7 linked regions of the Homo sapiens genome follow. The protein of the gene in region 1 interacts with the protein of each later gene in a pairwise test. Each region holds a gene or a part of one and is shown in the gene's direction. Other genes may lie near its edges. The genes, in order: BNIP2, BNIP5, APOBEC3B, BNIP3L, UPK1B, FRK and KCNK5.

Region 1 (3,500 bases):
AATATAATCCATAGTATGAAATATATTTTCAATCATAACCTGAGATACTATACATGCAACTGAAAACAAGTATTTTCACTGAACAGTATCCTTACTATAAACAGTATTTAACTTTCCCAGAATATATGTAGTCTGAGTATTCTCTTTTCTTTAAAAAAAAAAAAAAATTGCAACCCTGTAAATGAATTTCATGACCAGACCATTGTACTAAACATCAAGTATGAACTAATATATAAGATTATTACGCCTTTTCAGTGGATAAAAAGTAAAGTGGAAATTAAGTTATACATTTTTCTCTCTTCATAGGACATTGGCTCCCTGGATTATCAAGAGTTTGTAGTTGACATTGAATCCAGGCTGAGGATGGAAGGTGTGGAACTTAAAGAAGAATGGCAAGATGAAGATTTTCCGATGTGAGCAATGCTTTTAAAAGAAAACAATTTTAGAGCAAAAGTTCAAAATTTCTTTATCGAGATGTTACTTTTTTTTTTTTTGAGACGGAGTCTTGCTCTGTTGCCCAGGCTGGAGTGCAGTGGCGCGATCTCAGCTCACTGCAACCTCCGCCTCCTGGATTCAAGCAATTCTTCTGCCTCCACCTCCCAGGTAGCTGGGACTATAGGTGTGCGCCACCACGCCTGGCTAATTTTTGTATTTTTAATAGAGACGGTGTTTCACCATATTGGCCAGGCTGGTCTCAAACTCCTGACCTCGTGATCTGCCTGCCTTGGCCTCCCAAAGTGCTGGGATTACAGGTGTGAGCCACTGCACAGCTGAGATGTCACTGAGAAACTCAGTAATACAAGGCGATCATTTGATACTAGGAAGTAAAGTTTCTTCGGAACAGTTAGATTGATTCTCTTGTATCTTACTTTCCAACCAAGTATATATATAATCTTCTATAATCTTTCATTTTTGTTTTGGTCACTTAAGTTTGCAAATTTTTGCTTTTATAATAAAGTGTTTTAGTGTGGTTTGTTTGTTTTGTTTTGTTTTTGTTTTCATTTAAACAAGATCTGAGGGATTCCTCAGAGAAGGAGGTCTTTAGTTGTCTTTAAAATGTTTCTTTAATTTTGTGGCCAGGTGCGGTGGCTCACGCCTGTAACCCCAGCACTTTGGGAGGCCGAGATAGGCAGATCACTTGAGGCCAGGAGTTTGAGACCAACGTGGCCAACATGGTGAAACCCCGTCTCTACTAAAAATACAAAAAATTAGCCAGGCTTGGCGCTCGCCTGTAGTCCCAGCTGCTTAGGAGGCAGAGGCACAAGAATCACCTGAACCCAGGAGGCAGGGGTTGCCGTGAGCCAAGGTCGCGCTGCTGCACTCCAGCTTGGGCGACCGAGCAAGGCTCTATCTCAAAAAAAAAAAAAAAAATTTGTGGGTTCCCCCCCACCAAAAAAAAAAAAACCTTACTAAGTAAATTAATAAGGATTTTCTAGCTTATCTGGCCAGCCACCTTGACATGTTTGCATTTGTATTTACAATTATATTGGCACCAGGTAGGCTAATGAAAAAGAGAGCAAAGGCAGACCTTAAGTTTAAATAGTGCTTCCGTGCCGTACTTGTCAGAAGACATCCTAGTGCATAATCAGGTGCCTTAGCAGTTGGATAGCTTAGCAGTTGGACAGCTGATCGGAGACCTGAGTCACTGTTGCATATGGTGGTGATAGTAAATATAGGAATGCTGATCTCAGAAGAATTGAACCATTGTTACTGTAGTCTCGTGAGTAAAAATTGAGCTTCATACATTGCATCATACATCACATTATATTTGTGCATTTCAGTCATATTTGTTTAAAATTGTTACATGTTTTATAATTGTATAAGAGCTGTTGCATAAGGAATTTATATCTACTTTTATGTGTTACTTATATATAATAAGTGTATAAGTCAGCTCTGACAGTCAGAATTTTTACTTTGAAAGTGTAGCCAGGCATAGCACGTCACGCCTATAATCCTAGTGCTTTGGGAGGCCGAGGCAGAAGGATTGCTTGAGACCAGCCTGGGCAACATAGCAATATCCGGTCTCTACCAAAAAAACTTTTAAAATTAGCTGGGCATGTTGGTGTGCCACTGTAGTCCTAGCTACTCAGAAGGCTGAGACTTTATCTTAAACACTGCTAGGCTGGGCACAGTGGCTCATGCCTGTAATCCCAACACTTAGGGAGGTCAATGCACGAGAATCGTTTGAGCCCAAAAGTTCAAGGCCAGCCTGGGTAACATAGCAAGACCCTGTCTCTACTAAAAATTAGCCAAGCGTCGTGGCACGCACCTGTAGTCTTAGATACTCGGGAGGATCTCTTGAGCCCAGGAGTTAAGGCTGCAGTGAGCCATGATTGTGCCATTGTATTCCAGCCTAGGTGACAGACAGCAAGACCCTGTCTCAAAAACAACAACACTGCTTTATTCCATTTTCCAAATAATTATTTCTATAAGCTGTATGTTTAATAGATTGAACTTCAAAAAAAAATTCTTTCTTAATTTCTGGATTAAAAAGTATGCCTGTGTCTTCTAGACCTTTACCAGAAGATGATAGTATTGAAGCAGATATACTAGCTATAACTGGACCAGAGGACCAGCCTGGTAAGAGCTTGACACTTACTTTCATTGAAATTATGGACTTTGTGTTATTTTTTAAAACACGTTTCTTTGTCCAAAAAAAAAAAAAACTTGAGTTTTTATTCCATCATAGAAGTCAAAGTATAAGTTGAACATTGAGGAAAGCATTTTTAGAATGCTTTAAAAAAAATTCCAAAAACATACACTTGGTTTTTGGAAAGTTTTACAGTAAAGGGGTGGAGGAGATCATTTTTAGTGGTAAGAGGTATCTATAAGGTCTGCCTCTATTTAAAAGACATTGATACTTTATTGATCTCTTGCCAACGATGTAGAAGCAATAATGATCAGAATAAAAATTTTGTGAATAGGTGCTTTGAAATTATGTTCAATTAATATTATTTTTTCCCAAGAATGGGGTAGTTAAAATTTTTCTTATTCAACTTTAGCATCTAAGCATTCCTTGTTACGTATCTTTTTCTTTATTTTCCAATTCCAGGCTCACTAGAAGTTAATGGAAATAAAGTGAGAAAGAAACTAATGGCTCCAGACATTAGCCTGACACTGGATCCTAGTGATGGCTCTGTATTGTCAGATGATTTGGATGAAAGTGGGGAGATTGACTTAGATGGCTTAGACACACCGTCAGAGAATAGTAATGAGTTTGAGTGGGAAGGTAAATGTTTCACTGTTTTTAATCTGATCTTTATTAATGTACTAAGGGATTTTGTTTGAAATACATCATTCTTTCTAAAGTTCATATATTTGTTACTAAGATAGGAAATTGTGCTAACCCTTGAATATTCTCAAGGACTTAAAAAGTGTGTATAGAGTACACCAGTGGCTTTTTTCCCCTCTTATTTGCCCACTGCTCTCATGTTTTTTTCATAGCTGTTTCAAAAATATTTCTTGATAATTATGGCATGCTCTTTTTTAGTCAATCAAGT
Region 2 (4,197 bases), on another chromosome or scaffold:
TCCTGGGCTCAAGCAATCCTCCTGCCTCAGCCTCCTGAGTAGCTGAGACTACAGGCATGTGCCACCATGCCTGGCTAATTTTTAAAATTTTTAGTAGAGATAAGATCTCACTATGTTGTCCAGGCTGGTCTTGAACTTCTGGGCTCAAGCAATCCTCCTACCTTGGTCTCCCACAGTGCTGGGATTACAGATGTGAGCCACCATGCCTGGCCTTCTTCTTTTCTTTGTAAGCATTATCGCATTTGGCCCAACTACCCTCTGAGATGACTACTTGTTTTATAAGTGAGCACAAGCTCAGTGACATCATGTCCCCTGCTGTGGTTACACAGCTGGCAGGTGTCTCCAGATGGGGCTGACTCCAAAGTTTGGTGCTTCCATATATATTTTGTGATGCCTCCCTGTGTTAATGAACCAAAACAGAATTTCTTAATATTTTTTTCTTTTTTTTTCTTTTTTTTTTTTTTTTTTTTTTTGAGACAGAGTCTCACTCTGTCACCCAGGCTGGAGTGCAGTGGCACGATCTCAGCTCACTACAACTTCTGCCTCCTGGGTTCAAGTGATTTTCCTGCCTCAGCCTTCCAAGTAGCTGGGATTACAAGTGTCTGCCACCATACCTGGCTAATTTTTGTATTTTTAGTAGAGATGGAGTTTCGCCATGTTGGCCAGGCTGGTCTCGAACTCCTGACCTCAGGTGATCCGCCTGCCTCAGCCTCCCAAATTGCTGGGATTACAGGTGTGAGCCACCGTGCCCGGCCTTTGCTTTCATTTTAATAAAACATGTTTTTCTTTTCTGATTATAAACATGTATTTACACTCTATTTTTTAAAATAAGGCATTACAGAAAGTGGAAATCTGACTTTTTAAGACTTCTTAGAATGTTCTCTCAAGATCCATGGCAACCCTTCCCGGGCATAGCAGATCTGGAACACGTGGCTCTTGTGGGCTCTTCCTTCTGGGTTGTCTCCAGGTCAAGGGATGTATGTATCCCATCGCTGACCTTTCTTTCTAGGTACCTCCCTCCCCACTAATCTTCAAAGATAACTGAGGGATGTTGTAAAGGCAATAAAGCCACCTCGACTTTCTCCCCCTAACCTGCATTTCCCATTAAGTCTTGTTTTCAACTCTACAGGTGGGGTTTTCCCCAGCCAGACCTTAGGTTATTTTCTGAGCTTTGGTTTCTTACTGGGGTTTGGGTGCAATAAGGAAGTTGACAAGTGAAACTGTTTTTTCCAGGGTAGCTGAGCTAAGCCTCTTATCATTGGAGGAGCGGGGAGCAGTCCTGGGATGGGTGGTAACAGGTGGAGGAAGGTGAGCCAGCCCATGGCTCTCTGGATTGGCTGCCATGAGCTCAGTTCCTGGGAGATACTGTATATATGGACGGCCAAAGCATCTTCTGAGACACTCAGAAAATTGCCAGCACCAAAGTAGTGGCATCTTCTCCCTGGGAGAGCTGGGTCTGACTTCTCACTGGACACAACTTCCAGCTGACAGGGAGCAGAGCCTAACACAGAGACCTCTTGTCTGAAGATCCCAGCCCAGGGTGTTCAGGACAGAAGCGATTTCTGTGGTCCAAGGTTGGTTGAACAATACCCTCTCCTTTGGGGGCGGGAGCAGTGGGTATGTATCTTGGGGTCCGGAGAAGAGTTTAGTCCTGGGTGTCAAACCAAGAGTCCAGTCCCAATGCTGCTTCCAGCATGCTGGGCCCTCCCAGAGAGGCAATGGGGGTGGAGGTGGGGGATCAGTTTTCTTATCTCTAAAAAGAGGGAGCAAGGTTCAATGACATTATCTCAACGGGGTGTTTCTCAAAGGGCTCTGGGCTCACTCGGACTTAAAACTCTGTATTCAAGTCCCAATCCTGCTTATTAGCCGCCACCCTGAGCAAGGAACTTCACTTCCTTGGGCCTCAGTTTTCTTGTCTGTAGGATGGGGCAGCATTACATAGCTCACCTGCTAGTTTCCCTCAGGATGTGGTAGAGGTCAAGTTATAGACTTTATGTGAAGGTACATGAGGGAACCCCCTGATAAATGAGAGGTGTTATTATGACCTATGGTTAAATTAAGGTTCTATGAGTTTTAAGGTTTTTGGAAGTTAGTCCAAGAATGGGGAAATCTTATTAAAATAACTCATGGTCTACTGCTCTCTTGGATGGGAATGTAGAGGCTGGGAGGTGGATTATAACCCACAGTCCTGACCGACTCCTCACACAGTGTTGCATTGCCCGTGGTCTTGGATAGAGGACAGAATGGGGTGGGGAGGGCATGGGTGTCTATACCTAGGCACACGTGATTGTGTGACTCCATGTGCATAGGTCATGGTAGGTGTGTATGTGACTGTGATTACCTCCATCAGTGTGAAATAGCAGGTTTCTCCCCTAAGTCCATGTGTAAGTGCGTGCATGTGTATCTATGCTTACATGAGGCCATTTGGTGTAGAATAGAGAATGTAGGATTTGAATCGGGAGAAGTGGGAGAGTCTCAGCTCTCTGCTTCCCGGCTATGTGACCTTGGGCGTGTCTCTTAATGGTCCGGAGCCTCAGTGCCCCACTGTTAGCCCATCTGATTCACTGCTCCTGGCAAAGATGAAATGAGATCATGTCAATGAAACGGCTCTCTGGACGCCGTGTGGCTGCATGAAGGTGAGCTGGTTTGGGTTTGCACATGCCTGTGTATCATTTGTTTGTTTCACAAACACTGAGAGCCTCCCAGGCTCAGGTCCCCTCTCATGGAATTTAGAGTTAGGACCGATGGCAAGCGGTGAGCTTGGTCACATAATTATTCCCTTACACTTGGGACAGGAGAAATACAGGGCGTCTTGAGTCCATGTTGGTCTGTGGTGTGCACAAGTGTGTTCTGGTGACACGTGGATGTCTGTGGTGTTGACTGTGGGTCCACGTGTGTGTGCCACACACTCTGTCCCTCAGGGTGCTGCTGTGGGTGTGCAGCAGGTTGGCTCTCTGTGAAGTTTCTATTGTGTGAATCATGGGGTGGAGAAGGGGAGCCGCGAAGTTATCTCCATGAAAGGCACCAGAGCAGTTAGAGAGTAACGCGGCCAGGTGAACAAATTAGAGAACAGCATAGAGATGAGGTCACCGTGCAACTTAGAAAGTAAACAACACACAGCAGCAAGCTTGGGGAAGGCAAGCAAACTTCCCGTTCCAGGGTCAGCTTTGTGAGCCTTCTCTGGTTCTTTGTTGCTGTTGCTGGACATGTCACCGGTAAATGTCACATCTTATCAGAAGCAGTCTTGTGATGTGCAGATCACTTGGGTATTTCTGAGCTGATTTGGACTTTGCTCTGACATCCACTTTCGGCCAAGGCAATAACAAGTTTACAAGATCAGCTGGGTTTCCGCATAGTGAGACCACGCTGCTCACTTAGGATTCCTGGTCTGGAGCACAGTCTGCACAGGGTGGGATTCCCTGGTGGTCGGACTGAACGTAGTTGAGCACCTGGGGCACAAAACAAAAAAAGAAGAAGAAAGGAAAGGAAAGTCTTGCTTTGATAAATCCTGGATAGCAGAATTTTATATTTGGAAAGTCTTGAACGGTTTAATTTTGGCACATGTAGGAAAGGGGAGGTTATTAGGATTAAAAGACAAGCTTCCCAGGGCTTAGAGACTGAGGACACCCCATCCGCAGAGGTTCTTCAGGGGTCTTCCTGGGGGCGTGTGGGTGTGTCTTCCCCAGTCAGCCGCGCTGTCTCAATCCCTGGCCTAGAGCTGAAGACAATCTTTGGAACATTACAGAGGAGGAGCAGTTGGAGCGGGGGAGAGGGAGGAGAGAGCTGGACTGAGGACAGTCACAGCCACCCAGAGAGGAAAGAGAAAAGAAGGAAGTAGGGCTGGTATCAAATACTGAAGCACGTAAGGGAGGACAAGACATGGGAAGAGGCCACTGGATTTGGAATTAGGAAACCTTGGGAGACCCTGGAATCTCTTCACTGGGGAAACTCTTGGATAGCAGAGGCCCCCTTCCTGCCTGCCTCTGGGCTCAGCAGCAGCAGCTGCGGGGGCTCCTGGCCTTAGTTCCTCTCATCTCCCCGGGGGCTCAGGGCACCGGTTATTCCAGGGAGGGAGCGGCCAAATCACCGCAGCTTTCCTGAAAAAACATCAGGGAAAGCATGTGCTGGTGGGATTGTGTTAATGTTCTGATCAGGAGGAGCAGCGTGTCCTTGGAATGTGGTAGGAGGATACTGCTG
Region 3 (3,500 bases), on another chromosome or scaffold:
GCCTTCAAGGTGGGGCTGGTGTTTCCAGCCCAGGAGTCCTGAGCTGCCCCATCTGGCCTGAGAAGCACGTTTGGGAGACCTCATGGCATCCAAAGGGACGTGGAAAATGCTATGAATTATCCAAAAAGATGTCCCTGGCAGGCTCCTCTCCCCAATGATCCCCCTCAGGAGTGTCCCTGCCCCAATGCTGGGTGTGGTAGGAGTTAACCCTGCAGGCAGGAGGAAGCCCCAGCAGGTCCATCTCCAGCAGGGGCTGTGGGTGAGCAGAGCCAGGACAGGGGTGCATGGTGAGGCCAGGGAAGGAGACCCAGCTCTACCCCAGGGAGAGGGGCAGGGTCCTCCCCGGAGGGCCTGAGCACACTGAGCTGACCCTGGGGAGACCCTGACAAGGCCTAAACAGGCCCCGGGGCTGTGTTGACTTCCTGATAATCCACCAGAAGGGGTCAGAGAGAGAGGATCAGTGGCCCCCACAAAGGGAGTGGAAGCGCCTCCTCTGACAGGTGCCTCAGTATATGGGGAGCAGGGAAGGAGTGGGGGGTGCAGGAGAGGAGCGAGAGGTAGTCCCAGGAGGAGTCTTAGGGCTTTTGGTTTCCCCTGTCTTTGTCCACAGATACCTGATGGATCCAGACACATTCACTTTCAACTTTAATAATGACCCTTTGGTCCTTCGACGGCGCCAGACCTACTTGTGCTATGAGGTGGAGCGCCTGGACAATGGCACCTGGGTCCTGATGGACCAGCACATGGGCTTTCTATGCAACGAGGTGACCGACCCAGCCACCTGCATCCAGGCAGGGCCCTCCCAATCCAGGGACACTCATAGATAGAAGGTTCTGGGTGGTGCCTGTGGTTTCCTGCAGTGTTTGTCACTTGTGCTTCCTGCAGCTGCTGCTGCTTGGCCCTGGAGTTGGGGGGAGACTTTGGCTTCAGTGACTCTCCATGGCCAGGTGGGGTTGAGTCTGCCCAATGGCAAAGTGCTTCCTGAGGACCCTCCCAGGATCCCCTCACAGACACAGCTCTCACCAGGAATGATTCGGAACTGTGGGATTTGAGGACTCAGGGCCTACCTGACTCACAAGGCCAGGATGTCCCTGTGCCCTCTCTTGGGCTTCATCCTGCGGAGAGACAGACTGGGGCAGGAGAGGCTGATCAGGGGTTTTGTCCTGCCCAGGGTGGAGCCCACAGCAAGGCCAGAACAGGTCCCATGTCAGGATGCAAAGATGGCCAGCAGTTGGGGAAGAACTGGGCCAGGAAAGGCTGAGGGGGCCAGGCTAGGCTGGCCAGGAGCCCTGAGCCCAAGGGACTTTCTTCCCTGGCCCCTACCCAGCACAGCCTCTGTCTGGAGAGGCCAAGTTCTGCTTGGCTCTGTTGCTGGAAACTGGGGGCTTCTCTGGGCTCTATGAGCTCAATGTGGGCCTCGCTGGATCCACACACACTGCTTGGAACATCCTTTCAAGGGTGCCAGTCTCCATCACCGCCTAAGCAGTGGGACTCCCCCAGGAATGACCCACAGCCCCTTCTCAGCACAAACCATGTCATCCACTTCACCCTGCATCCCCTCTGATGGAATCCCTCCCTGTCTTTGTCCCCATCACAATCACAGTCCTTGCTGCCCTGCTGTCCCCAACTTGACCGATTCCTAGTCTTAGTGGAAAATCCTTTTCTCTGAAGTTTGGAGTAAATACCATATTTCTATAAGTCAAAATAATGACAATTATACCATGTCACAGGGACCTTCCCACATTGGAGTGAGTCCTGCTGGTCTTCTCTTCCCCACTACTTTTGGTGGAATTCATTTTGGCCTAAGTCTATATCACATTTGGGCTCAGCACAGGTTGTGGCACAGAATAGAAGTTTCTAGAATTATGGGCCACAGATGGGATGGGAGTAGGGGAGTTGATGAGTAGAGCAGGTCAATCTCCCCTTGAAGGAAGCACACTCACTCAGGGGCATCAGGCCAATGACCTTGGGGCTCCGCCGGCCCCTCCTCCCTGCCCCCATCTCTGTAGCCCCTCCCTGCAGGGCTGGGTCTGGGGTGAGGGTCCTGAAGGCTCTGACCTTGGGTACAAAATTGATGGGGGCTCCAAATGCTCAGTAATTAGAGAAAACACATTTTAATTTAATAATTAATGCAATATTTTAAAACGCAAATTTAATACAAATAGATCATGATGAATAAAAGCAAAGATTTTAATAAAGCCTGGCAGGAGAGTGCTGTCCTGTGTATATTGGAGCTGGGGCAAAATAAAACCTCATTGCTCCTGATCTGTTTGTATTTAAATGGGCAACATTTTGCTTATCTTGGGATTTTTGCATAACATCTGATATTTTTAATATTGCATAGAAAATCATGCATCCTAATAACCGGGGTTTTGGCGACCCCTCTAATTTCGTGCTGGAGGCCCCCGCCTCCCCAGCCCCACCTGGTCCAGGCGCTCCCTCCCTGTTCACCACACATCACCTCACACTCTGTTTCCTTTTCTAGGCTAAGAATCTTCTCTGTGGCTTTTACGGCCGCCATGCGGAGCTGCGCTTCTTGGACCTGGTTCCTTCTTTGCAGTTGGACCCGGCCCAGATCTACAGGGTCACTTGGTTCATCTCCTGGAGCCCCTGCTTCTCCTGGGGCTGTGCCGGGGAAGTGCGTGCGTTCCTTCAGGAGAACACACACGTGAGACTGCGCATCTTCGCTGCCCGCATCTATGATTACGACCCCCTATATAAGGAGGCGCTGCAAATGCTGCGGGATGCTGGGGCCCAAGTCTCCATCATGACCTACGATGGTAAGAATGGAAGGTTCAGGTGGGGTGGGGTGGGTGGGGGCAGGAGAGGTTCCTGGGAAGAAAAGGAGAAAGGCCTTGGTCTGCTGCCTGCAGAAACGATGGCTGGACTCTGGGACCTGACTTTGGGGTCGATGGGAAGAGAGAGGCCAGGCCAGGAGATATGGGCCCGGGGAGGGTGGCTGGAAGTGGAAGCAGAACTTGGGGATTTCCGAAAGAAAGAGAACTGGGCTGGCCCAGATTCCAATGGGAAGGAAGTACCTGATGAAGGAGCTAAGTCCCTAGGGGAGGGAGAGGGAAAGGAGGGACTGAAACCAGGATGTGGGAAGTCTGTCCTGAGAGTCATGGGCCCTTGGTGCTGCCCCCTCCCCACAACAGGAGCGTGACTTATCTCCCCTGTCCCTTTTCAGAGTTTGAGTACTGCTGGGACACCTTTGTGTACCGCCAGGGATGTCCCTTCCAGCCCTGGGATGGACTAGAGGAGCACAGCCAAGCCCTGAGTGGGAGGCTGCGGGCCATTCTCCAGGTGAGGGCTTCCTCCCTCTGCCTGGTGCCCCATCGGCCTCCCCCTCCTCCCCGCTCCCCTGTGCCTTGCCTTCCCCTCTGCTCAGAGCCTCCTCTGGGTTCCCTGCTCCCCACAGGGCGCCCAGCTCCGTCCCTCCCTTTCCTTCTCACAGCCTCCTTCTCTTTCCCACCTCCCGCATCCCTCCCTCCTCTCCCGTC
Region 4 (3,500 bases), on another chromosome or scaffold:
AAACAGGAGAAGAAATGTACAGATTATCTTGCGTTTGGGATTTTATCTTTGGTTCAGGGGTCAAAGCAGGGTTTCAATAGCAAATTACTGAAGTATTTGAATAGTGAAGTATTTTTGTGATTTTTTTTTAACTTTACCGCTGTGGAGAGACTGTTCACTTTCATTAAAAATTACAGGGCAAATACCCAAACTCCTTCCAAGTCAAAAGGATGTTGTCCAGTTTGTTTTATTGTTAAGAAAACTATCAACTTCCTTAAGAATGTTTGAATAAGATTCAATAGGGCCGAATAAGGAAAATCAAAGTAGTAGTGTAAATCGTAGTATAATTCTTGTTGTTGAGAAGTATAGCCTTTTTTTTCTTTTCAAATTTTCTTGTTCTTTTTTGTTTTTTGTTTTGTTGAGACAGGGTCTTGCTTTGTCACCCAAACTGGAGTGCAGTGGTACAGTCATAGCTCATGGCAGCTTAGACCTCCTGGGCTCAAGTGATCCTCCTGCCTCAGCCTCCCAAGTAGCTAGGACTGCAGGTGTGCACCCCCACATCCAGCTAATTATTTTATTTCTTGTAGAGTTCGAGTTTCACTTTGTCACCCAGGCTGGTCACCGGCTAACTTATTTTTTGTAGAGATGGAGTTTTGCTTTGTTGCCCAAGCTGGTCACAAACTCTTTTTTTTAAATAGAAACATCTTCAAGCACAATGTCCTTGCTTTCTTGTTATGAAGAGTGCTCTTAAGGCCTTCATGGATTGTCACTGCCTCATAATAATGTTTTGAATACCTACGTAACTTGTATGTAAATACATACTGCTGCAAAAAGACCAACTTTTCAAAAATTTATTTATTTATTTTTTTATTTAAGAAGAATGCCAGTAACTCTTGTTGGCCTGGTCTGGATTTCAGCATCAGGTTGGCCTGGTCTGGATTCCTTTCAATAATGAATGAAAAGCTTTGAGGAAAGAATGTAAATATAATGAAATTTCAAAAGAGTTACATGTGGGCCTTGAAAAGTTAGGGGGAAAGATGAGGAGAAATACTCTTCATTCTCTCCTCCCCTTGTCCCAAAGCTCCTCTCTTCTTCTTCTTGCAAGAGGATTGAACTAGTGATTATAAAACTGTAAAGATTATACAACATACGGCAATGAGTATAATCACAATTATTGGACCACCCTTCACAGTCTATTATGTTAGAGAACGGAGAAGCATTCACAGAAGTTTCTCTGAATCTCTTAGTCATTCCCAAAAACCCAAACCAGAAAATATCTCATGTCATTGTATGTTATGTACAAATTGGCATAAGGAACAGCTCTTAGTTTGTAAAGTCTTTTAGATAATGGAGAAAGCTTCCAGCTTTTAGTTTTCAAGCTTGATCATTAGGAGGAGAATTCACTCTGTGGTTGTTTTCTACTTTGTGTTGCTTGGACAGCACAAACCTCTTATCTAGCCTTGTTTCCTTTCCAAGTAAAAAGGGACTTTGTGAGGATTGGTAGAGTTAGAACACTAAGAAATTCTGAGGCTGTAAATCAGGAACAAATCGGGTGATGGGAAACAGACGTGTTGTTCATCTATTGAGGAAGACACATTTGCTTTTTTATGTGTTACTCAAAAGATTAATATGTAGCCTCTTAATGCCTGTGTACATAACTTTCTCTGTACCACTATGTATTTCCATAGATGATATTTTTGAAAGAGAATTACCCTTAATTAATTAAAGGAAATCTACACTTTTAAGGCTGTTAATACCTATTGTCAAATTATTCTCCAGAATGTTCACTGAAGCCCTAATTGTAATAACAAAGTATTAGAAACAACCATCTCAGTAGTAGTTAACCATTGCCATTTAGATAATGGTTAAAGTATGGTATATCTTTATAAAAGATGAGATGCAATGCAGTTGTTCAAAAGAATGAATGTCAGTATATATTGATAGGGAAGACATCTGAAAAACGACTTACAGAATATGTCAGTATGTGTGTATGGTACAGTTCCATTTCTTTATAAAAACAAAAGCAAAAACAGACCTATATTTCATTGACAAAAACTCTGCAAGTCTCCATGTGAAACTGTCAAAAGTGGCTCCTTTGGGAGTAGGAACGGGAGGTTGGGAGAGATGTTAATTTTTAATTTTATGTACTGATGTTTACGTTTTCTAGGAACACATTTTTCCAGTAAGGAATGGTTTTTCTATGATATAGAATATAATTGTAGTAGCTAAAACTTTCTTAGGGACCTTTCTTATTGTTCTGCGTGCTATATTCATTTAATCCTCCTAACAAAGTCTTCGAGGTAGATACAGTTATTATCTCTATTTTATAGATGAGAAAACTGAGGCACAAAGAGGTTAAGTACCCTGTGCGAGGGTAACAGCTATAACTGAGAGTGGGAGCCTGGCTTCAGTCTCAGCCCCTGACCACACTATACCAGTGTATCCCAAGTACAAATTGTCCGCCTTAAGTAGAAATGCTTTCAGTTATGATTCAGGGTGTGGAGGCCACAGCAGAGATCACTTTTACTAAGCTTTTCTAGGTATGTCTCTTTCAGGTTCCAAAAGTATATATTGGATTATGATTGCTTATGTGTTTTTAATGAAGAAAATAGGATCCAGACATTGATTTGAAAGTCCTTCAAAAAAGTAAAAACCAGGTTGGGAGCAGTGGCTCATACCTGTAAGCCCAGCACTTTGGGAGGCTGAGGTGGGAGGATTGCTGAAGCCCAGGAGTTTGAGACCAACCTGGGCAATGTAGGGAGACCCTGTCTCTACTAAATAAATAAATAAATAAATAAATAAATAAATAAGTCGGGCATGGTGGCATGTGCCCTGTAGTCCCAGCTTCTTGGGAGGCTGAGGTGGGAGGATTGCTTGGGCCCAGGAATCAAGGCCGCAGTGAGCTGTGATTGTGCCACTGTACTACAGCCTGGGTGACAATGCAAGACTGTCTCAAAAGAAAAACAAAAGTAAGGACCAGAAAACCTGATATTGTTTGTTACACCCTTTTTTCTCTTCGATTGCCTACTTCAAGTGAATATTAATTGTATTTTAGGGAAGACTGACTTCCACAGAGACCTATCTGGAACTCCTGGTTCCTTACCTCTGCTTCTGTCAGAGCAGCTCTGGGTTTTGGTTTGTTACTATTGTACACATTAGGCTTCTATACAAGAAGAACTGGTCCCATTGGTTTAAAAATAAGTTTGAAAATCCTAGAAACAGTGAGAGTCAGAAAAAAAAACTGTTTTTATATACATATTCTCTCCCCCACCCCCTTTCTCTCCAGTTGAAATATGTTGCAGAGCTCTAAATTTAGGGATGCTTTTGGCGTATTTCTTATACACTCCAGAGGCACTCGAGATAAATTATCTTCAATGTTAGATCTCTCTTAGCTTTGCTAGTTGTATTTGTTAATCCATTTTGAGTTCTCTAGCCTGTGTCCATTTTATGTGTGTATAGAATGAGGCCATGGAGATGTTGTACAACTGTGTCGTTTGGCAGCAGAGTCCTAAGGAATTGGT
Region 5 (4,152 bases), on another chromosome or scaffold:
CCATTAAATGTTTATCTGTGGTGTCATTTTTAACCATTGCACAGAATTCTATTGTGTGAAATATGATAATTTATCTAACAAGGCCCTGAAGAGCTGCAGAGGAATAAGGCCTTGTGATGGACACAGAGGTGCTCCATGCAGTCCCCCTTGAAGTGGGAGGTTGCCCTGCTGCTGGGAGTACTTGCAACCTCCAGCCTCCAGTTATCAGCCCCTTTCAGGACTTGCCTCAGCTACAGAAAGCTGCCTTCCCAGGGTAATCCACATTGAAGGGCAGATCATAGAGGAGCCCAGTGTCAGAGCTACTCTGACAGGCCATCTTCCTCCAGAGTTTCCTGAGGAGGGCTGCTTAAGACTGTCCCATCTATATTGCAGCTCAACTTCTTCCTCTGCCCAGTCCTGTTTCTCCCCTCTCCCTGCCATGGGTGTTAATCTCAGGGCACTGTCTAATAAATATATTGCACACTAAATTTTGTCTCAAAGTCTGCTCCTGAACAACCTAACCTGCAACAGAGATGATGCTGACCTTTGAGGAACTCCCAAGTCTATTGGTAAAAGCACTCAGTAAATTCTAACATTACTGCAGTTACCGATTCCTAACTCAGGTTAAACAAGCGATGGCGCATGTATACCATGATAGGTTATGCAGCCATTAAAATAATGTTCTGGGTGCCATGTATAACACATGATGGCTCCAGAAGTCAGGGAAGAAGGAAAAAAGAAGGGAAGGGAAGAGAAGAGAAAGGGAGGGAAGAAGAGGGGAGGGAAGAATTGGACATCAGATAATCACTTGAGCCCTCTCTCTCCGTGAATTTTTCCCAATCTGTTTCTTTCCACATCTCTTGCTCCTTATCAGTCTTTGGGCCACCTACAGTATGAGCATTACTTGGGCAATTACTGTCTCTCTGAATTTGGCATATGCAAATTATAGAAACTAAAACTGGACATGGCCCTACACAGGTAAGCACATATCAGCATCGCTGTGAGCGGTCAGGACTAACAAGCCTTCAACACACAAAAGCAGGAGTAAGGATCAAATTACACAAATCAAATCAAATCAAATCAAAATAAAATCCCTGAGTTTGTATTCCAGTAAAGCCCAAACCTAGGAGGGATCCAGGAAAGCGATGAGTGTGGCTGTCAAGGTGCTTCCATCTGTCAGAGTCACACATTCCAAAGCAGCAGAAATCAACTGACAGCCTCCGGTTACTCCCCCGCCTCAGCGAGGCAGGGCAGGCAGCGGAAAGCTCAGCCCATGTGAGGTGCCTCCTGCCAATCACAGACTACCCTTCCCTGGTCCTGGAGGTTCAAAGAATTGCAGGAGGGTAGAAAAGCACCTGGGTCGGGTGCAGACTGCGGAGCGGGCCCTACCGTGTGCGCAGAAAGAGGAGGCGCTGTGAGTAGACCGCTTTCCCTCTGCAGGGAATCTCCCGGGCTCAAGGGCTGGGTTGCTCTCCTGGGAGGGAAGCTAGCAGACTGGGAGGGAAAGGGGAAGAAGTTAGATTCTTGATTCATAAAGTCTGTCATTTTTTTCTTTGTAATTTAGGGTATTGTGACTGTCCTGTTCTCTTTTACTTTGAACCGTTGGAATTGCTTTCTTAATACCCTTGATATAAGTCTTGTTCTCATTAAACTTCTGGAGATATTACGCAGCCATCCTGCTTTCAACCTCAGATATCCCCACAGAAAGAACAAGAAAATCCAAGCACCCCGAGAAACCCTATATCTCCTGATTAAATCGCACATAGACAGTCACCTTTGTAGACCCCCAATTTCCTTGTGGAGTCAGAAAAGCAATAGAAAGTTTAACGAAATAGCTCGTGTTATTTCTTAATAATCTGTTCAGGCTAGCAGAGAGAAAGTTTCTTGGTCTTCTTGTCAGAAATCATTTGGTCCTGCCAACCTGTAATGAAATGTGTGAAGCAATTTACTCCCAGTTATTCTCTGCAAACACTTCTGCTTAATAAATGTGTCAGTTGAAGTAAGTCAACAAAGTAGCTTTATCTACGCAATGTTATTTTTACATAATTTGTTTTTACTCCTTACCAATTCTTTGCTCCACCATGATCTGCAGGACATAAAGATATTTTTCATTCTGATCACATTTTCACACAAAATACAAATTTAAGTTTCAAATAATGCTAGTATTATTTTATGTTTGCATTTGTTTATAAACCTAAAACTCCACTTCTAACTAGTTTTAAAGATTTTTAAGCCATTTAAGAATTCGTAGCCAGTCACAGTGGCACATGCCTGCAGTTCCAGCTATTCGGGAAGCTGAGGCCACGTGATCAGGAGTTCTAGTCCAGGCTGGGCAACATAGTGAGATCCTGTCTCTAAAAAAAATAAAAATAAATTTTTAAAGAAGTTTTGTTAACTTGAATGTCTTCTTTTAATGAAAGACAACGTTTCTTGAACATTTCTTGCCTGAGTTGCTAAGCACAACAGGAAAGAACTCATTAGGTTTTATAGATATACATACTTTGAGTATAAACAAAATTTAGGTTACATAGTTTTCAGACCCTATGAAGAAGTGGATTTTCTTTTTATTAACCTTCTCAGTGAGGAGAAAAATTTCTTACTTTGCTTTCTGCTCCAACAGATTGTTTTGCTTTCTGCTATAAAATAGTCTTTAAAATCAACTCACCTATTTTTTTTTTTTTTAACTGCTGGGAAGAATCATAGACTTTTACATCCAAAGGGGACCTTAGACATCATTTAATCAAGGGGAAAAAAAAGAAACTCAGAACTTTTTTTTTCTTTTATTTTCTTTTTTTTTTTTTTTTTTTTTTTTTTTTTTTTTTTGAGACGGAGTCACTCTGAGGCCCAGGCTGGAGTGCAGTGGCGTGATCTCTGCTCACTGCAAGCTCTGCCTCCCGGGTAGATGCCATTCTCCTGCCTCAGCCTCCCGAGTAGCTGGGACTACAGGTGTCTGCCACCACGCCCGGCCAATTTTTTGTATTTTTAGTAGAGACGGGGTTTCACCGTGTTAGCCAAGATGGTCTCAATCTCCTGACCTCGTGATCCATCCACCTCAGCCTCCCAAAGTGCTGAGATTACAGGCTTGAGCCACCGCACCCGGCCAAAACTCAGAACTTCTTTTTGACTTCTCCTGCTTACAATCTTAACCAGAGTAAACACCAGCCAGCCTTTAAATATGCTCTGGAATTTGTGCCTGATAGCCATGCAGGCTGCCCACAAACTTGATGGGCCACCATTCACCAACTGGGACAGAGACCACATTGGTGAGGGGGCACCATCATCACACACCGCCCTACCCGCCTGCCCACCCCCTCCCCCCCGCCCCAAGGACTCTCCATAGTACTCCTGCCCTGGAGCTGGGCATCTCTCTGGCAATGCCCACACCTGAGGCCCTCGTGCAACTGAGTGCTCCTGAGCCATTGCTTACAGCTAGTCCCTGATTTCCAATGGGTGGATGACTCCCATCATACTGGGAGCACCAGGAATCAAGAGCAGTGCTGTCCAGTAAAACTTTCTGTGATGAGGGAAATGTTCTAGATAATAGACACTAACCACATGTATCTAGGGAGTGCTTGAGATGTGGTTGGAGCAACTGAGGAACTGATTTTTACTTTTATTTAATTGAATTCTTTTGACTTTAAATAACTGCATGCAACTACTAACTACTGTATTAGTCAACACAGGTTTAGAGCTTTAAAGCAAGAAAAACTTATGGGCACTGTGAGCCATGGGTGACAGCCCTGGGAGAAACCTCCTCTTTTTGTTATTTCCAGGGACTTATCCTACCTTAAGTTGAAGCAGACCAGCAATTGTTGTGACCTACAATCTCCACACCCATCTTTACTCTGAGCCAAGGAAGTGTCTGTTCTTGTGCTGAGTTTCAGGGTGAGGGCTAAGGCAATCGCATATTGTGTTTCTTTGTTTCTTCCTCTCCTATTTTTCCTTTTCTTTTTTTCTCCTTTGTTAATTCAAATTTCTCTAGCATGAACTAAAGTTTGAGGTGTGGTTTGTGTGTTCTCTGGTACAACAAACTTGGGTGAGGAAAAGAGGTAATGAACTTGAAAAAATGATCTCATGCTTACTGGGCGAGTCTCACTTCTTTTTCTTCTGCTTTGCAAATTGGTTTGTTTAGTGAGCAATTGTTTTTAGACCTTTCAATGTGTCTGGAAACAT
Region 6 (4,025 bases), on another chromosome or scaffold:
CTGTCCACTGCTATGGACTGATTTTTGCACAAAGTAATAGCAGGTTGGGCTGATGCCATGGTTCTCTGATTTTCTTTTTCTTTTCTTTTCTTTTCTTTCTTTCTTTCTTTCCTTCTTTCTTTCTTTTCTTTCTTTTTCTTTCTTTTCTTTCTTCTTTCTTTCTTTCTTCCTTTCTTTCTTCCTTTTTCTTGAGTTTGATTATTCTGATTACTAAATGCCTTGCAATTTGAAAAAGAACAGAAGTTATGAGCTTGTACTAGGAATAGGTTAGCCAGGTTCAAGGGTCTCACAACATTTAGAAAGATTGTTTTTAAGAAAGAAATAAAAAAAAAGTCTTATAGAGAGATCAGTGACACTTCATAAACAAGTTTGCAATGCTGTCTACTAGTATAAATGACCGTACGTTGATCTGCCAGACTCATTGCCCGGCTGTTTTTGCCAGGGCACATATTTGTGAGACAGCTGCTCCGAACTAGGGAAGGTCAAGCAAAAACCACTGCCTGTCTAGAGATGGCTGTCCTGATGTCAGTCTCATTAGTTCCTGAGTTCTTGCCAAGTTAGTAAGAACTAGCATAGATCTGGAGGTCAAAGTTTAGCAGAAAGAGCCCCCACAGCAGTGTGCAAAGAGCTCTTTTTCTGTTCTACTCTTTTTTTCTCTACTGGTCACCTAGTTGGTGTGTAGCGTGTGTGTGTGTGTGTGTGTGTGTGTGTGTGTGTTTCCCAAATAGTACTTGAAGGATAGGAAATTAAATGTCTGTGGGAAAAAGCAACATTTTGGGTTCTCAGCATTTTAGTCAGCTGCTTTCTTACTTTTCCAGACTGTGACTATTCTTTGAAGCTATTAAAATCTATTCTTGGTAATGAGAAAAGGGAGTGACTTGATGGTTCTTTTCCAATTGCTCTGTGTCTGACAAGAAATACCTAAATACTTTAATTTGCCTTTTTAAATTTCCCCTAGTGGTGGCAAAACAATTCTACTCCTATTTGTCAGGGAAAAAAATCTCTGCCGTGAATTTCAGTGCTGGGAACATAACAAGACAAAAAGCTACCTGGGCTAGCCTGTTTCTCCAGGATGAAACAAAAGGAATATAGATTTTAGCGGCTGCTTTAACAGTTTGGTAAAGGATCTGGTCTATCTTGGGTGTGGGAGATGGGAGGGGTAAAGAGGTCAGAATACCATTTAGATCACAGACAGAAAGAAACCAGGAAGTAAGGGGAAATTATTACAGTCTGTTCATAGCTCAGAATGTTAAAGGCAACAGCCTCTGCTGGTTGGTTATTCATTAGCAAAAAGGAGAGAGCCGTCCAGATCCGGACTGGTCGAAAGACAGGAACAGACTTGAAACAGGGGGAGAGCTCCTGGCGAAAGCAAGACGTGGAGGTTTTACCAGGGGTTAGTAGCTTCCTCTTGCTAACTTTTTATTGGGACAAAAGGCAAGATGGCACCATTCTGTTCTCAGATATTTGTCTAAATAAAGCCCTTTTAATTTTATTTTATTTTTGTTGTGGGATTCTTAAGCAGATAAGAAGAAAAGACACCTTCCTAGTGAGCAGCTGCCCAGCTCCTGCTCAGTTTTGCCTCGGGGTAGCACCTCCAGCCACAGAAAGCAAGCCGGTAAGTCTCTCCAGGTAGGACTTGCTGCAACCCAGCTGCTGGACTGATCTGAAACGGGACTTTGCATACTCTCCGAAGTATGGTGAGTTGGTGCTGACTTCAAAGTTGCCTGGTGAAGGAAGATAAGGTGGATCGCAGAGACTAAGGGGAGAGGGAGAAGCCCTGCTCCTCTTCTCCCCACCAAGGCACAATGAGCAACATCTGTCAGAGGCTCTGGGAGTACCTAGAACCCTATCTCCCCTGTTTGTCCACGGAGGCAGACAAGTCAACCGTGATTGAAAATCCAGGGGCCCTTTGCTCTCCCCAGTCACAGAGGCATGGCCACTACTTTGTGGCTTTGTTTGATTACCAGGCTCGGACTGCTGAGGACTTGAGCTTCCGAGCAGGTGACAAACTTCAAGTTCTGGACACTTTGCATGAGGGCTGGTGGTTTGCCAGACACTTGGAGAAAAGACGAGATGGCTCCAGTCAGCAACTACAAGGCTATATTCCTTCTAACTACGTGGCTGAGGACAGAAGCCTACAGGCAGAGCCGTGAGTAGTACAAACTTATACTTAATTTCTGAACTCTCTGAGGGCTGGGTAATGAGTTTTCCTTTCTACTTCTCTACAACCCCCTAATGTCCAAAGAGTTGCCTAAAAAGTATGAGGAAGTACTGGCAAGAAACCACTAATTGAAACACACCTCCCCCGCTAAGTGAGTGTGAAACTGGCCAGTAATTGTTGTTGAGATGACTTCAATTACAGTATGTACATCCACAGGTCCAGGGTGTATTTTCAAAATAAACAAATGATGTGTTTAATACTGTACCTTCTCTTTGGCTGTAAAATAACTCATGCCTCACTTTAGCAATAAAATTGCATTTTGTTTGAAGGTAAATTATAAGACTTCCCTTAATGATATTCTCAAATCTAAACTTCAGATTCTTTTTTTTAAAAAAAACTTTTGAAACATTCCAGGGTAATATATCAACTCTAGCCCTAGCTCTAATCCTAATCCCTTTCATTCTGATGGGAATATACAGGGCTAATGTAGAAGACAACACTTAGAAGATACTAATGTTCTCAGTGACATCATGATATAGATTTTTTTTTAATTCCCAGATCCTGAGATATGCTACCCAAATTATGATATCTTTTGGTTTTTATTATGATTAGAAACTGGCCAGCTACAGACATTTGGTAAATTTTGATAGGAAAAAGGACAACATCTCCTTGAAGAGGAGATAAAGACTTTATCCTGGTATTTGAATGAAATATGAATTATATTGCAACAAAAGAGGAAAGTTTTTATGTACTTATTCACCCATCCATCCATCCATCCATCCATCCACCTACCACCCCTCCAAGTGCCAGGCATAGACAGTAGTGGGCCTGGTGAGTTGGGGAGGGTAAAGGAGATTATTCTAGTAGTGACTGAATACAAAGTGGATAAAACATAGTCTTGACAATGGATACTTGGGGTCTGGTGGGTTGGGAAGCAAATGGAGACTGTCATTGGCCCTGATCTCATTGCTTCCTGAATCCAGTGAAACCTTAGACTGGGAATGTCTTTCAAAAAATGTACTCATTTTTTTTTTTTTTTTTTTTTGAGACGGAGTCTCGCTCTGTCCCCCAGGCTGGAGTGCAGTGGCGCGATCTCGGCTCACTGCAAGCTCCGCCTCCCGGGTTCACGCCATTCTCCTGCCTCAGCCTTCCAAGTAGCTGGGACTACAGGCGCCTGCCACCACGCCCGGCTAATTTTTTTGTATTTTTAGTAGAGACGGGGTTTCACCGTGTTAGCCGGGATGGTCTCGATCTCCTGACCTCGTGATCCGCCCGCCTCGGCCTCCCAAAGTGCTGGGATTACAGGCGTGAGCCACCGCGCCCGGCCAAAATGGACTCATTTTATAGAATGGTTTCTTAATAGGGAAACCATTGGAGATTCTCTTATGTTCTCATGTAAGTGTTTCTTATTTTTATGTGAGCGTCCCTTACTGGTCCAGGGAATAAGATAATAATAAATAGCCATAGAGCATTGTTTCTGCTTTCCAAACTCATACATCACATATGAAGGGAGGTTTGACGAGTTTTGAGTTTTGAGATTCTTTTCAACACCAAGAACCTATAAATGTTTAGAAGGGTCTTAATTTATGCTTAAATAGAAATGAATTGAAATATACTTTTAATGAATGGAATTGATCAGTTATCAAGTGGGAAAATCACCTGTGTGAACATTTGCTTTCTGTGATAATCTACAGGAAATATCTTTATATATTGGATACACTTATGTGCATTTATCTGTTTTCACTACTTTATGATTTCTATGTCCTGTATGGCATTATGCATATTTTATATTTGGCATAACATGTATATTATAATAATAATATATTAATGTTTCATGCCTTGAATTCATAATCTGTTAGTTTTA
Region 7 (3,500 bases), on another chromosome or scaffold:
TTACCCTGAAAGTTGTGTGTGCTCTTTCAAATGTGTGAGAAAGGGAGTTAAGTCAACTTTCTTTAGAAATACCCCCCGAATTGTCAGATACTTCCTTCCCTCCGCTGTGGTTGAAGTGAGGTGCAGGCTGACTTTCAAGTGCTCAGTGACCCGCCAGCCTGGGACCACGTGATCGTCCTCTTTCCTGTCTTCAGAACCATCTTGAACCCTTGCTCTCAAGCAAGATCTTTGGTGACTCATTCTCCCAACCTCTTCCTAAATTGCAGACTCACACAAGGGAAGTTAACATTTACAGCACACCTACTCTGTGTTGGGCATTGTGGGTGCTATTATCCTCATTTTATGAGAGAGGGCACAGGCTGGTTTTGCCATCTGGCTCGGCCATTTACCCATCAAGCCATGTAACTTAACTTTGCCTTCCTTTCCTCATCTGCAAAATGAGTGTTTGGTGAGGCTCCAATAGAGTAGAAACATTAGGCAAGATGTCTATAAAAAGTGAACAGGTCTCCTGACCTTAGCATTTATTGAGGAAGGCAGCTTTACCTACCTGCCTTATTTCAGGTACTCTTTACAGTATGTATTCAAGTAAGCAAGCTGAAGCCCAGAGAAGATAGAATGGCCACAGGGACACCACAGGAGGCACAGCCTATGGGGCGGGACGGGGAGGGGCAATGACCAGGCAGTCTGCCCCAGGAGCTTGCACCTCCCTCTTGGGCCTGTGAAGATTGTTGCTCTGTAACTGAGCTTAGGAAATTGGTTCAGCTGGACCCTGATCTGCTGGAAAATTCTATTTTCTATTTCCCCTAGCACAGGTAATGGCATACAGGCGTCTCCTGTGTTGTTGCCTGGCTGACCCAGCACCTCTGTTACTGAAGTAATACATCAGTCCACCCCTCTGCGCTTCTCATTTTGGAAGTCCCCAACCCCTGTCCCACCAAAAACAGTGGGGGTGTGATTGAAGGGGAGGAAGGACAGCCCTTCTCAACCTTCTGCCTCTGGTGGGCAGTGATCAGAAACAGGAAGGATTTGAGAGCCCACCGTGCACCAGACCACTTTGAATAAGCACTTTATATACATTCTTATTTTAATTTAATCTTGCAGGCCACCTCATAAATGAGGAAAATTAGGGGAAAAGCCAGTGTAACTTGTCTGGGATCACATAGAGCGGAGTCAGTTTTCACATCTAAGTTTCATGTTTCAAAGTACATGGAAATTAGCAAGCATTTATTAAGTATCCACCATGTGCCAGACACTGGGCAAGACTCTCAGGATACAAAGAATTAGGCTACACTCCGAGCTGCTGGAGAAAAGGATACATAAACCCACTGGGAACAAGACAGTGGGTGTGGGCTACAGAAGAGGTTTTCAGGAGGTCGCTTAACGAGGGTCTGGTCCAGCCTGAGGGGTCAGGGAGGGCTCTCAGGAGATGACCTCAAGCCAGAGTGGGGTCTTGGATTAGAAAGAACAGCTGGGAACCTGGGAGGTCAAAGCTGCAGTTAGCCTGGATTGCGCCACTGCACTCCAGCCTGGGCAACAGAGCAAGAGCTTGTCTCAAAAAAAGAAAAAAAAGATTAAAGAAAAAAAAAAACCTAACTGGTAAAGGAAGGGAGAAGAGACTCCTAACAGAAGATGGAGAGTGGCCCTTTCTCCTAGCCTGGGGAAGGCAGACTGCAGGTTTCTTGCTGTGGCTCTAGAGAGTCCCTTGTCTCCTGAGGGTGGAGCAGGGTTGCCCTAGGTCCTGCCCTCTGTCTAGCATCCCAGACCAAAGTCCAGGTTTTGCTTGACTGCTCATATAGCTGACCTGTTCCCGGAAGCCTCTTGGATCCCACTGGCCTCCTTCCTTCCTAAGCTCCAAAGTGCTTTCTTGTGTTCTAAGGTTTTCCATATGTACCTCCTTTCATTTTCTGGACCCTTTGGACTGGTCTATACACACTCCAGTCCAAAGTAGTAAGGCTAGTTCCAATTTTGAGGTTCTGGCACTCTTTTAACACCAATCCTGCTCCCCAGATTTGAAAAATAAAACCATGAAATATATGACAAAATTACATGTGGCCAAAATGCTTAGAATGGGGTACATTGAATTTTTTGGAAAGTTGAGGGTTAATATAAACACCCTCTTTGTCTCAGGCCTTGTTGGAAATTGTGAAATGCACTGGTCCACTTAACCGCCTTTGTAAGTAAAAGGAACACAATAGCTCTTTTGGTTATGGAGGATCTTGGAGGCCTCCACAGCCTTGGGTCCGAGCTTGAGTTCTTACTGGCTAGGACTGCAGAAGTGGAAAGTGGATAAGCTGGTTTTTTGAGAGGAAATTGAAGAGGTCCCTTCCTAATGGCTTGTTTCTTATTTATGTTCCACTCAAAAGTTGAGGGTAGCCAAAAAAAAAAAAAAGCCTTAGTCTGCCTTAGTTAACTGCTCTGGTTAGAGTTTTTTAACAGTGAAAGTAAATGTTTATTACATTGCTTTGAGCGTTTGACTAGAACCCTTAGGATGATTACAGATGGCACAGTAATAGAGAATTATTGAGGGTAGAAATTAGCAAGTGTTGAAAGTTTCCAGTGGGGGTGGGGGATGCAAAGGAGGTGATGATTGTTGCTTTTAAATATTTTCCTGGGGTTTTGCCCTATTTATAGTCTGGCGTTTAGAAGAAACAAAATCCCCCGGTTTTGGATGCTGTGCTTGGCTGGCCCTGACCTCGGGCCAAAGGCTTTCATCTTGAACTTGGCTGTTTGCTGGCAGATTGGGCTCAGCCTCTGAACTGTGTGTGTGGTTGGTGGTGGTGGGAGGAGGGAGAGAAGTGCAAGGTTTTGGGGAGCAGAGGAGCCAGGCCCCTGAGTGGAGCCTCCAAGACAGTCTTTGTCCAAATTGGGATGCTGTATTTGCATGGTGCTGCAAGAACCAGTTGGCCAGAACTGGGGTGGTACAGAGAAGTGAGGTAGGAGACCATAGGAAAGCACATGAAATAGGTTTGCCTCCTTCCAATATTCCTTGTAGGGAGTGGAGAAGATGGAAGCGAATCTCTTTGAGATTTCATTGAGTCCCCAGGGACCTCTGGAATAACGCAGAGGAACCCTTGCCTGTTCAGTTCTTCCCAAGTATGGCTGTACATAGAGAGAGGATGTGCTGCCCTCAGTAGGGATCTTTGTCCAGCTGCCACTGCGGGGCCTTGGTGGTGTTGCTGAAGGAATCACCAACCAAGCAGTATGTCTGATGGTTGTGGGAGTGGCCTCTGAAGCCACACCATAGTTTGCTTAGAATAGTGTATGGCACATCGTAAATGCTCACTAAGTGTTAGCTGCCATTTCTGCTATGCCCAGATATTCCTATGCTGCAATGGAGCGGTCCCTGCACAGGTGTGGTGGGAATCTAATTGGTATTACAAAGAATCAGGAAGGTCTTCCTAGAACAGAGAGAACGTCAACTGAATTTTTTAAACGCAAAAAACACAGAAACATATAATTTACCATTTTAGCCACGTTTAAAAGCCCAGCTCAGTAGTGTT

What was found.
Region 2: the proteins of BNIP2 (region 1) and BNIP5 interact in binary tests that used the Homo sapiens proteins (3 or more experiments, as listed by UniProt).
Region 3: the proteins of BNIP2 (region 1) and APOBEC3B interact in binary tests that used the Homo sapiens proteins (3 or more experiments, as listed by UniProt).
Region 4: the proteins of BNIP2 (region 1) and BNIP3L interact in a two-hybrid assay, tested with the Homo sapiens proteins (one study listed by IntAct).
Region 5: the proteins of BNIP2 (region 1) and UPK1B interact in a two-hybrid assay, tested with the Homo sapiens proteins (one large-scale study listed by BioGRID).
Region 6: the proteins of BNIP2 (region 1) and FRK interact in binary tests that used the Homo sapiens proteins (3 or more experiments, as listed by UniProt).
Region 7: the proteins of BNIP2 (region 1) and KCNK5 interact in binary tests that used the Homo sapiens proteins (3 or more experiments, as listed by UniProt).

Annotation. Positions count from the first base shown.
Region 1 is NC_000015.10:59,679,321-59,682,820, reverse strand, and holds part of BNIP2 (BCL2/adenovirus E1B 19 kDa protein-interacting protein 2), read left to right. Parts: intron 1-306; 5' UTR 307-363; coding exon 364-413; intron 414-2,512; coding exon 2,513-2,580; intron 2,581-3,052; coding exon 3,053-3,229; intron 3,230-3,500.
Region 2 is NC_000006.12:36,334,089-36,338,285, reverse strand, and holds the start of BNIP5 (protein BNIP5), read left to right. Parts: upstream 1-1,397; 5' UTR 1,398-1,574; intron 1,575-1,610; exon of another isoform or gene 1,611-2,636; intron 2,637-4,197.
Region 3 is NC_000022.11:38,988,847-38,992,346, forward strand, and holds part of APOBEC3B (DNA dC->dU-editing enzyme APOBEC-3B), read left to right. Parts: intron 1-610; coding exon 611-764; intron 765-2,485; coding exon 2,486-2,780; intron 2,781-3,187; coding exon 3,188-3,303; intron 3,304-3,500.
Region 4 is NC_000008.11:26,386,054-26,389,553, forward strand, and holds part of BNIP3L (BCL2/adenovirus E1B 19 kDa protein-interacting protein 3-like), read left to right. Parts: intron 1-3,500.
Region 5 is NC_000003.12:119,172,246-119,176,397, forward strand, and holds the start of UPK1B (uroplakin-1b), read left to right. Parts: upstream 1-1,352; 5' UTR 1,353-1,393; intron 1,394-4,152. UniProt on the Homo sapiens protein: Component of the asymmetric unit membrane (AUM); a highly specialized biomembrane elaborated by terminally differentiated urothelial cells.
Region 6 is NC_000006.12:116,058,092-116,062,116, reverse strand, and holds the start of FRK (tyrosine-protein kinase FRK), read left to right. Parts: upstream 1-1,225; 5' UTR 1,226-1,805; coding exon 1,806-2,149; intron 2,150-4,025. UniProt on the Homo sapiens protein: Non-receptor tyrosine-protein kinase that negatively regulates cell proliferation.
Region 7 is NC_000006.12:39,222,976-39,226,475, reverse strand, and holds part of KCNK5 (potassium channel subfamily K member 5), read left to right. Parts: intron 1-3,500. UniProt on the Homo sapiens protein: K(+) channel that conducts voltage-dependent outward rectifying currents upon membrane depolarization. Voltage sensing is coupled to K(+) electrochemical gradient in an 'ion flux gating' mode where outward but not inward ion flow opens the gate.